3 separate regions of the Homo sapiens genome follow, and all the other regions are linked to region 3. The links come from fine-mapping of genetic effects on plasma protein levels. Region 3 holds a variant in brackets. A gene starts in each other region. All regions are shown on their reverse strands.

Region 1 (2,998 bases), not on the chromosome of region 3:
CCCTGGAACTCCTGACTCTGATGCTGGTACTGAATAGGAACAGAGGAAAGAGATTTCATGAACGGAAAATCCATACAGATACAGAATTTCAGGGAGAGAGGTCTAAGCTAGCTGTCAGGGTTTGAACCAGGGGTTTAGGAAAGAGATGGAAACCTTAGTTTCTAAACAGTAAGCTCTACCAGAAAGATCAATGAGACCCTCTGGGATGCTTTGCAGCAATTAACAGAGTTACAGGCGGAGCTCAAATTGGTCAGCTCTGTAGCAAAGAGCCCTCTGTGCTCCAGATGCCAGACTGCCTAGACAGCAGCCTGATACTGGGAAGAATAAGGAAAACCATCAATCTCAGAAAAGCCAGCCTCTTTCGTCGAGGCCAGCCAACAGTCAGTCAAGTCTGACCCTGATACACAAATTATCCACTTCTCATGGGACCAGAGAAATCCCGTAAGAAAGCCTGAAATGTTCCACTATATGAAACAGTCTAAGCAATACACTCACTAGCACCTCCTGGGAGGGTGGGAGTGATGTGACAGAGCTTCTGCTATGAGGGAGCTGCTAGTCTAAATGCGTGCACGCACACATACACACAAACATACGTGGGTAAGTTCAAAGGAGGCAGAAACCATTCCGATCCCAGTTTTGGCTGCAATAAACACTACAACTAACCAGACTAGACAAGTTCAGAAGAGATAGGGAAGGCTTCTGGTGTTCCATCCTCAGGACACTGGGCACCAATAGCCTCTGGGACATTTTGGGGGTCCCCCCACCAGAGCCCCACCTCTGGACTCCCATAAGGTCAAAGGCAGCAGGTCCCTCAAGGACCAGGAGCTTACCCCCTTCTCCACCCCCAGGGGCTTGAAGCTTTAAAGGGAGCATGATCTTTACATTCTGCAAGGAATCCACAGGATCTGAGAAAGGAAAAGGCTAGAGTTGGGGCGGGGGTGTTGAATAAATGGGGAGAGGAGGAAGGCCCGGGTGTCTCGTTGGGCAGATGAGAAATCAGGAAAAGGGCTGACCTGAGCAAAGAACACTGGGATCAGCAGGTAGGGGTTGTGGGGGGGGGGGGGTGGGAGGAGGGAAGCAGAGAGGACCTGGACACCAAATAGAAGAACCAGAATCTTCATTCCTATTGGCACAAGGCAGGAGTCATCCTGGGATACAGGGATGCAGATAGGATCCTTCAAAAGAGATCCGCTGGAAGACGTCAAGGAATACCAGACGGGGACAGAAAGGAAGGTGGTAACATGTGGTGAGAAATAGCGTCCTGAGTGCTAGTTCGGACTCAGTCTCTGACTGGCGTGGGACCCTGGACAAGTCCCGACAGGACTTAATTTTCCCATCCGGAAAATGGGAAGAGCTGAAGAGTCTCGGAGCTGACTCTGAGGAGGCAGACAGCAGAAGGTGGAGGAAGGAACCACAGGCTAAAAGTGAATTCGGGAAGGGGGTGTTCCCGGCCTGTAGCAACGGGGGGACTCACCTGTCCCGCCGCCGGCGCCACCGCCGCCCCCGATCCCCCAGGGGTGCCGTCGGGCTGCCGCTCGCGGTACAGCGCCCAAAGCCCCACGTTGGGCAGGAGGACCAGGGCCGCCAGCACCAGCGCCACCGCCTGCAGGAGCCGCTTCTCCTTCCGCCTCATCGGGGCCGGTCAGCCCCGCCGCGCCCCGCCGGCCCCGCCGCGCCGCCCCCAGCTCCGCGCGTCCGCCCGTCCGCCCGGCGGCGGCAGCAGCTCAGCCAGCAGAAGCGGCTGCGGCGCCGGCCCCGCTCCAACTCCGCGGCACTTCCGCCGCTCGCCGGCCGGGGAGCTGGGCGCCGCCACCACGCCGCCGCCACGAGGGGGTCGTCGCCGCCGCCACCGCCCCCGGGCCCCGCCGAGCCGCCCGCCCCGCGCCGCCTGCCCCCGCGTCGACCGCCGAGTCTCTGCGCTGCAGGCTCGGCCCTCTCACGGAGCGTCTCGGCCCGCCCGGGCGCTGCAGGATGCCGGGCCGGAGCGCTTCCCCCCTCTCGAGCCGCGATGGTCCGTCCCACTCCTCGGCGGCTCCCCCGCCCTCTGGAGCTTTGCGAAAGTCCCGGAGTTGGCGAGTTGGGCGCTAACTGGTGCGGGCTGGGCACCGCTGGGTGGGGTGCATGTCCGCTCGCCCGGGTACCCTGCCGCCCCGCCCGGCAACCTCCGCCCGGGACTGCAGCCGAACCTTTGCTGCCTCCCTGGGGATATGCAAATAGTGCTGGGGCCCCGCCGGGCGTTCTGAGCCTGGAGCCCCCGGGGCTGTCACTTCCAGCCCACCTAGGCTCGGCCCCCAGGACCTGCGGACCTACTTTGACCCCGGCGACTCGGTGTTCCCGGCCATGAAACGGGGCCACAGCCGTGCTGCACGCTCACTGTTCCGCGGGCGGGCCCTGGTTTTCTTCCTCTAGGGGGGCCCTGGCGTTAGGTGTGAACGCCCTCTGCAAACTGTAGGGAGCTGTGCCCGGCCGCCGCCCGTCTGTAGATCCTGCAAACCGGCGGGTGGGTAAGTGACGGTAGCCTCTCTGCAGCACCTTTCCTCACGCAAGTCCAACCCCCTTGGAGTTAGAATGCCCTGCATTCTCACGCGTGCTTTTGGATCCTAAGCGCACTGAGCCCTTCCCGGAAAGCTCTCAGCAAACCGTTGGCGAGCGCCACTATGTGCCAAACACTGTGCCAGGCTCTGGGATGAAATGAAAACAGACCTGAGCCCTGACGTCTGGGAGCTGAAACATGAAACACGTAATTTCACTAGACCAGGCAATGTGTCTGTAACTGTGGCGAGGGCTTTGACAGAGGAGTCGGGCTTCTGGGCGATGCGGAGGGCCGTGGAGCCGGACTCCGACGGTGATGCCAGCCAGCGGCTCCTCCTCGGGGCGCTCGACGCTGGTCACTTAGCTGCCTCCTCCCTGATGCGGTGGAACGGAGCACCCCCTTGGCTACCTTACTCTCTGCCACCCCCACATTCGTCCTCTTGATTCTCTGCTTCTCTAGCTCAGC
Region 2 (4,288 bases), not on the chromosome of region 3:
AAACTCCAGTTCCCAGAGCCGAATGGCTTTCCCTGAACCAGTATGAGGCCACAGGCTCGGAACACATGCCTGGAGATCAAGGCAGAGAGGAGAGCACTCCCTGCCCAGAGTCTCGCGACATGTACCCAGTCCTCCAAACCAGCTCGATGCCCCCTCCTGACTGGGTCTTCCTGGGTCTCCTCCATCACAAAATGAAAGCACTTGGCTCTCTGGCTGCAAGGTGGACCCAGACTCCCCTGGCCCGAATTCTGTTTCCATACCAGTCTTCCCAAATCCCAAAATGTGAGAGCTCGATGGGGTCAGGATCTCTTGCATCTCCAGGCCCCTGCCCCGCTCTGGCCAGCTTGGACCCTGCACTCAACAGGGGCCAGCAAGTATCTGGGGAGCACAGTCTAGTGCCCCAAACCTTCTGGCCATCTGATTCCCTGGCCCAGGTGGCCAGGTGCCTTGACACTTGGGGGCAGCTTGAGACGTGGGGGTGGCCTTCATGCTCGCTTATGCCCTAGACTACCCCAGCTGGTTGTGCTGAGGCCATCAGCGCCTGGTTGTCCAGAACTCTCCCTGGCTTCCCTGAGTCCTGTTTCGGGAGGTGCTCTCCTGTGATTGGCCTACGCCTGCTGGACCCCAAGCCTCAGCTTTGGCGTTGAAAGTACCACCATCAGTGGTCCTGCCTCTCTGGAAGGTGAACGGTTCCTTCTTAAGAGTTGGCAAGAAATAGGAAATGGGGGAGTTCCTGAGCTTAAGGATGGGAGAGGCACCTCCCTCCTCACACCCTAGGGACCCATTGGTAAGGCACAAAGCATGCTTCCCACATTCTGTCACTCCAGGAGGCTTCCAGGCACAGCCCCAGCCCCTCGAGGGGCTCCTGTGTCCTCTCCTAGCCCCAGATGCTGGACCTCCCTGGTACCTGAGTGTAGTCTTGGCTAAAAGATCCTAGAAAAGTGACCACAAGGAAACAACCAGAAAGGGGACTGAGAGGGCCGGACCCGGCTCCTCCAGCACCAGTGGCAGGAGATGAGGGAAGGGGGCCTACCTGAGAGGGCTGCCGTCAGCAATCCAGTGATCCCGAAGAAGAGCCACATGTCTGGAGCTGTCTCTGGCTGCTACGCGTGGCTGCCTGTGGGAAGCACCATCTTGGGGCCGGGAGGTGGACACGGCCGTTGTGCGCCCCTGGCGCAGGTCTGCTCTACCCTTTGCTGTTCTTGTTCCTGTGTCTCTCTCTGCTCTCTCCTCTCCGACACGCATGCGATCAAACCCAACCTGTGAGTGTCTCACGCCTGCTTGTTCTGCTTGTGGTTTTGGTCTGCAGGAAGCTGGGCTGCTGTTACAGGGGCTGGTGGGGAGAGCCCCAGCTGCCTGTGCTGGGAGCCCACCCATCCAGGCTGCACCCCAAGAGTCACGGAGCCAGACACACGCATGCACACGCATCCATGCAGACACACTTCCCCGAGGGTCTTCTAAGAAGAAGGGAAGTGGAAGAGCCATGCCTCATTTCTGGTGGCCCAGAAGAAAAAATTGATAATGTAGTAGCTGCTCAATCAGTACATATTGGAAGAGGGAGTGAATGACCCATTGCCTGTCCCGGTCCGTGTAATTTGGCTCTCTTGGATTAAATCCTGAGTTTTATCTTAACCTTAGGTGCAATGGTGGTTGGGAAGGAGGGTGTGGTCTTGATGCACTTTTGGAGATAAGAGCCTAAGTCTCCCCTCAGAGAAATATAAATTGGGAAGGGCCTGAGAGATGGCCATCCCACAAGTCCTTCTACAGGGAAGGGTGCCAAGGCCTTGTGGGAGCCGCCCCGTCAGATGGCACAGTGGGGCCAGCTATCCCATCTCCAGGTACCAGACTGGGCATGCCTCCGTGGGAGTCAGGCATGGGAGCTGGGTCTACAAGGCTGAGCAGGATTTTGACAAACAGCAATCATGGGAGGCCTCTGGGCCAGAAGGAATAGCAGGAGCAAAGGGCTGAAGGAAGGAAGCCCAGGGCTGCCTGAGAAACCCCGAGTTGCCCCATTGCACTGCAGCAGACTGACGCTATAGGAAGAAGGCAGGGGCCAAGCGTGTTTAATTCCCATGGTACTCCCTGTGGAGCATATGGTAGGAGGTGAATAAATGTTTATTGAATGAGAAAAGGAATAGATAATTTGGTTGTCCAAGCAGGGCCCTGGAAGTGGTCAAATCCAGAAGGGGTTTGGTTCCAAATCCTGGCCCTGCCTCAATTGGTCCCATCCCAGGTCCACCTCTCCTGGCCCTCCACTTCCTGCATCCTTGCTTGTCTTCATTTCCCCAACATGTGGAATGAGGAGCGGTCCTCCTCCATTGGGTTCGGTCCTAAATGTGGGTGTATGCATTTGATGCGGCAAGTATTAGAGCCACGGGGAACCAGGCGCCCCCAGAGTGAGACTCCTCCCAGTCCTGCCCCAGCGCCGGCACCTGCTGCCGCTGCCCTCTGGTGGAAGTCACTGGCAGCACAGGTTTGCATGGGTGCCTCGAGCTCCCAGATGCAATTCCATTCATTTACACAGTCTTGGTGTGCAGAACTCTGGACAGGACTCTGTGGAAGTGAAAGAGAGGAAACCATATTCCTGCCCTCAAGGAGGATGAAGTTCACACACACACAAGTGACCAAACCACAGGCCAAGGTAGGACACACATAATGTGAGGTCTCCTGGTCCTAAGAGGAACCCGTTTGAAATGGGCCGGGAAGGATGGCTAGACTCCATTTCTGACAATATGGTAGACAGCAGATGCTGAAGAATTCTCCTAATACAAAACACCACAAAAATATTGTAAACCATCTTTTAAAATGTGTAGCTGAGGTGGTGAGAAATGAAGAAAATCATCAGAGATCAAAAACGACAATAAGCCTGGGCAACATGGTGAAACCCTCTCTCTGCAAAAGGTGCAAAAAATTAGCCAGGTTTGGTGGCACACACCTGCGGTCTCAGCTACTCAGGAGGCTGAGGTGGGAGGATCGCTTGAGCCCAGGAGGTCAAGGCTTTAATAAGCCAAGATTGCACTGCTGTACTCCAGCCTGGGCAACAGAGTGAGACCTTGTATATGTTAATATATAAAGACAACAAAAATCCAAAGAGATCACAGCCAGCAGAGAAGTATCTGTTGATCCAGTTGACCAAGAGCTTCAGTCTTATGAACATGGACAAAAGTTAAAGCTGAGAAACAAAATCGAAGTGAAAAACAAAATCCAAAATTTCTGCCTTAAACAAAGAGCACTGAAATACAACATCCACAGTGGAGAACTCGGAGAGAAAAATTCCTTAAAGCGAGCTGACACAGAGCTTGCCCAACTCAGTATGGACTCTGAGTGGGAGAAAAATAAATGTCAACCCTGAATGCCCCTCACCACAAGTCTACCCACTAATAGGCCTGGAGGTGAAACTCATGGTGACTTTGTGGCAAAAACAACCACACAAAAAACAAACAAACAAAAAGATAAGATAAGAATTTAAAGTAAGGTAAATAATAGCTCCTTAGGCACGTGGCAGAAACAAATGATAAAAATTGTCTCTGGAGTAACTCATCCTATATTCATGACTCAAAGAAATCCCACAGAAAAACTCCCATGGAACATGAGTTCACATGTTTGTAAAACAGAAAAATCATAAAACACAGGACACAAGGTGCTTTAGGTGAGAGGAGCACCAAGCAATAAACTAAAAATGCAGACCTTCGAACACATCTCAGATGTTGGAATTGCAGTATATATAATATAAAATAAGGATGTTTCATATGCTTCAAGAATTAAAAGTTGGTAATTGAAAGTATAGATAAGGAACAAGAGACTATTTAAAGTGACCAGGAAGATTGAGGGAAAAAAAGCAAGCAGTTATGTAAAAACATAATTTTTGAAAATAGAAGCCCAGTGTACAGATTAAACAGTAGATTAAGGCTCAGCACTTTGGGAAGCTAAGGCAGTCTGATGGCTTGAGGCCAGGAGTTCAAGACTAGCCTGGCTAACACAGTGAAACCCTGTCTCTATTAAAAATACAAAAATTAGCCAGGTGAGGTGGCACATGCCTGTAGTCCCAGCTACTCAGGAGGCTGTAGCACAAGAATTGCTTGAACCCAGGAGGCAGAGATTGCAGTGAGTCGAGATTGTGCCACTGCACTCCGGCCTGGGTGAGAGTGAGACTCTGTCTCAAAAATAAATAAATAAATACATACATAAAAATAAACAGCAGATTAATATGGCTGAAGAGACAACTACTGGGGTGAACAATAGATTTGAAGAATTTACCCAGGATGGAGCACAGGAGGACAAAGTGGTG
Region 3 (4,345 bases):
ACATATAATAAGGTGTTTGAACTAAACCAAGAAGTTTCTCCCTCTAAACTTCAATTGGGTTAAATTTCTTAGGAAGAGAGCCCCTTAAAGAAGCAGCCATCAGTCAGTGTTAACTAAGCATCTCCTAACAAAGCTCTTAGATGCGGAAGAGGACTCCAAGGTGGTCTCCAACTCTCCATAGGAATTGCATCCTACAATTCCATTCCATCCTGATTAATATGTAGGATTAATTAATATGTTGGATTGGACCTGAAGTCAGTGCAGACACCACAGGTTTAGGGTTTAGTCCCATGAGACTGCTCCACTTTGGATGCCAGTCGAAAGTCACAGGTTGTCCCCAGTACTTCTGATCAATCAGCTATAAACCAAGAGTTTCCACAACCCCCTCCTCAGGTTGGATAATTTGCTAGAAGGACTCACAGAACTCAGGAAAGTATTTTACTTACTATTACTGGTTTATTGGAATGGATACAAGTTAGAAACAGGCAAATGGAAGAGATGTAAAGGACAAGGTACTAGGGGGCGGTGTGGAGCTTCCACGCTCTCTCTGGAATGCCACCCTCCCAGGACCTCAACGTATTCAGCAACTCAGAAGCTCTCTGAACCTCACTGTTCAGTTTTTAATGGAGATCCCATTACCTAGACATGATTGATTAAATCATTAGCCATTGGTGATTGACTCTATCTCCAGCCCCTCTCTCTTCCCAGGAGGTCCAGGATAGGGCTGAAAGTTCCAATCCTCTACTCCTGCCTTGGTCTTTCTGGAGAGCAGCCCCCATCCTGAAGCTAACTAGGGACCCCCAGCCACCGGACATCTCATTGGCACACAAAAGACACTCATCTCTTGGGGACAAAGCCCAAGTATATCTTATCACAGATAGACAGACTGGGCCCCTTCATGGAAAAAGTTCCCAATTTACTCTGAAAGATAAGAGTGACTATACTTCGCTGCTTGCCTGCCACGGTCCCAGTTTACACACATTGTCCCAGAGTAATTATTATTCCCACCTCCTTTCACTCTTAAGAATGTCATGGTTTGGAGGCTAAAAGTCACACGGTCACCCTAGATAAGACACATATTTAAGAAAAGAGAACTTGGAAGTCAGAGTAGAACACACCATTAAGTGTTAGGATTGTCACAAAGCCCATGAGGCTGGCTAGGGACCCCTGGAGTCAGTGTCTAAGGCTCCTTTTCTTACCAGGCCCTGCACATGCCTCTCGCACCAGGGAAAGGGAGGCCTCTGGAGAGGGCAAGGGCACCGGTTAGATGCAGCAAATCCCAAAAAAGTCTGACTTCATTGCTTTTCCATTCGTTGGTAAAGACAAATAAAAGGCTATAAAATACATTTTAAAGGGAGGGCACTAGAGACAGCATTATGGACTTTAGACCTATGAAGACCTGAAGCCCTACTTCGTATCCACACATACCACAGGCTCTGAATGCTGAGTGAAAAATAGCTCAGTGACAGAGAGAGAGAGAGAATGTGAAAAAGAGAGAGAGAGAGAATATGTGTATCTGATTCCATGTGATTTAGGGGTTTTGTCTGGAGACATCCCTGTGCCTCGCTCCCCCTCCCTGGGCGTGGCTGGCCACTCGCATCCCTGGCTCCCTCCTCCCATGTACCACGTTTCCAGTCCTCTTTGCTGAGGATAACACTGCACAAAGACAAATGGTGAAGCCTCTTTTTTCTCCAACTGAAGTAACACCCAGGCGATGAGAGCAGCACATCTTAATTCCCAACAAGTTTACTCGAAGAGCCCCTTCCTCCTCTGCTCCCTTGGCTATCCGGCACCTCGATGTCCCTCCCGCCCTTGCAGGGAAGCCTGGGTGTTGCCAGCTCCCTGGTGAGGAAAAGGCAGGTTCTCCTGAGGGAAGGAGCGAAGAGGACATCTGACTTGGGTACCCATGTTCCCTTTGGTTATTTACCTGTCCTGTGGCTGAC[G/C]CCACCACCCACACCTGGAGATGTCCCCAGAGCACACCGTGGGCGAAGGTGTTTTCCTCTCTTCATTCTCGTGTTTAATACAACCAGATCTTGGAAGCGCTGGGAAGAAGGGCAGGCAGTGAATGGTGTGACAGAGCCAAATCCTCTGACCCCACGCCTTTCCCTGGGCTTGACAGAGTGGGGACAGATAGGGCATCTCCACAGGCAAGGCTGTGGGGATTGATAAGACGGGCACACCCACAACTCCCGAGTCACTGACAACCCTCTGCATCCTGTGAAAGAGTCATTTTCAAGAAGTCAAAAACATGGTTGTAAGGGATGGCCCAAGGGAGTTTTTCAGGGGGATGATGGACCTGTTTTGTATCCTAATTGTGGTAGCAGGTACGCAACTATATATGGGCTAGAATTCATAGAACTGTAAATGAAGAAAACCCTCAACTTTGCCAGATGTTAATTTTTCAAAATTAAATTTTAAAACATGGCTTTCACACAAATATAGAATGAACATGTATCTAAAAAGTATTTAATCAGTGAGAGAACCAGCAGGATGGAAGAGCTGGTTTAAAAAAAAATGTAGGAGACATCAAAATAGTTACAATTACTGAAGGAAAGAATATTAAAGTAATATTGCTAAATCACTTTATATAAAACCTTAGACTTTCTTTCTCTTCTTTTTTTTTTTTTAAGATGGAGTCTTGCTCTGTTGCCCAGGCTGGAGTGCAATGGCGTGATCTCCCCTCACTGCAACCACTGCCTCCCAGGTTCAAGCGATTCTCCCACCTCAGCCTCCTGAGTAGCTGGGATTACAGATGCCCACCACCATGCCCGGCTAATTTTTGTATTGTTAGTAGAGATGTGGGGGTTTCACCATGTTGGCCAGGCTGGTCTCAAACTCCTGACCTCAGGTGATCTGCCCACCTCGGCCTCCCAAAGTGCTGGGATTACAGGCGTGAGCCACTGTGCCCGGACTTAGCCTTTTTTCCCCTTTTCTTTTTTTTTTACAATTTTTTATGGGGCAATATTTCATCCCATAAAATAGAATGAGTGTCCTCCCTGGCCTTTTCACTAAAATGCTTTTATTTGTGTCACTATAAAACAAGTCTGCACCCTATCAGTTTCCTATGCCTTTGTCATAAAGTTGTAAAATAACCTAATGAGTAGTAAATAGCAAGTTAGACAAAGGTCTACACCCCTAGAAAGTCAGGTAATTCCTTGAACAGGCCTGCCAGACAATGCCCAAGGCTGACATGACTCAAAGGACCTGCAGGAATCTCTGCTCCATTTTCAAGTCTTGGACAATTTTCCCTAACAATTTTCCTGTTCCTATTTCCCAGGGGAAAGGAAACAGGAATGTGAGGCCCACAGCTGTGCCCAGGGAGGAAATAGTGAACTGAGCTATCAAAGAAGGGAGAGGCCCAGGGATGTCCTGTGGTCCTAAGGAAGCTAGCTGGTCTGCATCCCAGCAGGACATCAGTGGTTTTGAAAAATATAGGCATTCATAGAAAAGATAGCAGGAAAGAAAACCAGACAGGGCTGTCTGGATCCACAGACCACCCAGATCATCCTCAGACCCACCAGAATCATTCTTGCCCCAGGGTTCCAGACCCATGGCAGGTGGCACAGCCTGGGACCTGGCCTCTCCCTCTAGGTTTCATGAGCACTGTTCCAACTGCCATGACTTCGGGTGAGTCCCTCAGCCTTTCTTTTTCTTTTCTTTTTTTTTTTCTTTTTTTTTTTTTTGGAGATAGAGTATTGCTCTGTCGCCCAAGCTGGAGTGTAGTGGCATGATCTTGGCTCACCACAACCTCCCCCTCCCGGGTTCAAGAGAGTCTCCTGCCTCAGCCTCCTGAGTAGCTGGGATTACAGGCGCACACCACCACACCGGGCTGATGTTTGTATTTTTAGTAGAGATGGGGTTTTGCCATGTTGGCCAGGCAGGTCTTGAACTCCTGACCTCAGGTGATTCACCTGCCTCAGTCTCCCAAAGTGCTGGGATTACAGGCATCAGCCACTGTGCCCAGCCCCTCGACCTTTCTTTTTCAGACATTGGAAATGGGACACGTTAGCCCTATCTGCTCAGAGGGGAACTCCAAAGCGAGCCCAGAGCAGATGTGGGAGTGGATTCGGCCTCCTCCGGACCCCTCCAGCTGGGTGGAAGGGGTCTTGCCAGCCAGTTCCCCCAGGACAGCATCTGAGTGCAGGTGGACCCTGGTGACTGGCCCCATGACAGCCAAGGCTCCGGAAACCACAGCATGTCTGCAGCTGCAGGGTCTTCTTTTGTGGGAAGGGGAAAAGCAAAGCCGCCCTGAGGGAATGCTAAACATGTGCTCAGCAGAGAGGCTCCGGGCTGGGAGAGGAAGGTGAGGCGGGAGCCTGTAAACAAAAGGCCACAGCCCTGAGAA

Alleles and levels. Alleles are on the strand shown, and positions count from the first base shown. The strength of an association depends on the size of the effect and on how common the allele is.
In carriers of allele C in region 3, the plasma level of the protein whose gene starts at base 1,767 in region 1 tends to be higher than with G alone (weak association).
For the plasma level of the protein whose gene starts at base 1,268 in region 2, allele G in region 3 goes with a lower level than allele C (weak association).

What was found. PIP is the posterior inclusion probability: the model's chance that the variant is causal. The UK Biobank Pharma Proteomics Project read protein levels with antibody pairs (Olink). The fine-mapping took linkage between variants from a reference panel, not from the people measured, so its PIPs are less certain.
Region 1: it holds the start of GALNT10, and the variant in region 3 is fine-mapped to the plasma level of the GALNT10 protein (UK Biobank, PIP 0.98).
Region 2: it holds the start of CD6, and the variant in region 3 is fine-mapped to the plasma level of the CD6 protein (UK Biobank, PIP above 0.99).

The regions. Positions count from the first base shown.
Region 1 is chr5:154,189,502-154,192,499 of GRCh38, reverse strand. GALNT10 (polypeptide N-acetylgalactosaminyltransferase 10) reads right to left here and starts at 1,767. Exons shown (of 12, transcript NM_198321.4): 1 at 1,475-1,767. The coding sequence starts at 1,633. It overlaps LOC124901118 (a long non-coding RNA gene), which reads left to right and starts at 2,421. Exons shown (of 2, transcript XR_007059010.1): 1 at 2,421-2,504. RefSeq lists silencers at 1,472-1,531, 1,602-1,681, 1,772-1,881, 1,892-1,991, 2,082-2,171 and an enhancer at 2,392-2,998.
Region 2 is chr11:60,968,660-60,972,947 of GRCh38, reverse strand. CD6 (CD6 molecule) reads right to left here and starts at 1,268. Exons shown (of 13, transcript NM_006725.5): 1 at 1,034-1,268. The coding sequence starts at 1,082.
Region 3 is chr2:62,294,029-62,298,373 of GRCh38, reverse strand. No RefSeq gene overlaps it. Among named protein-coding and RNA genes, the nearest start is that of MIR5192, 90 kb to the right of the region's middle. RefSeq lists an enhancer at 1,291-1,790. The variant G/C (reference allele first, on the strand shown) is at 1,944.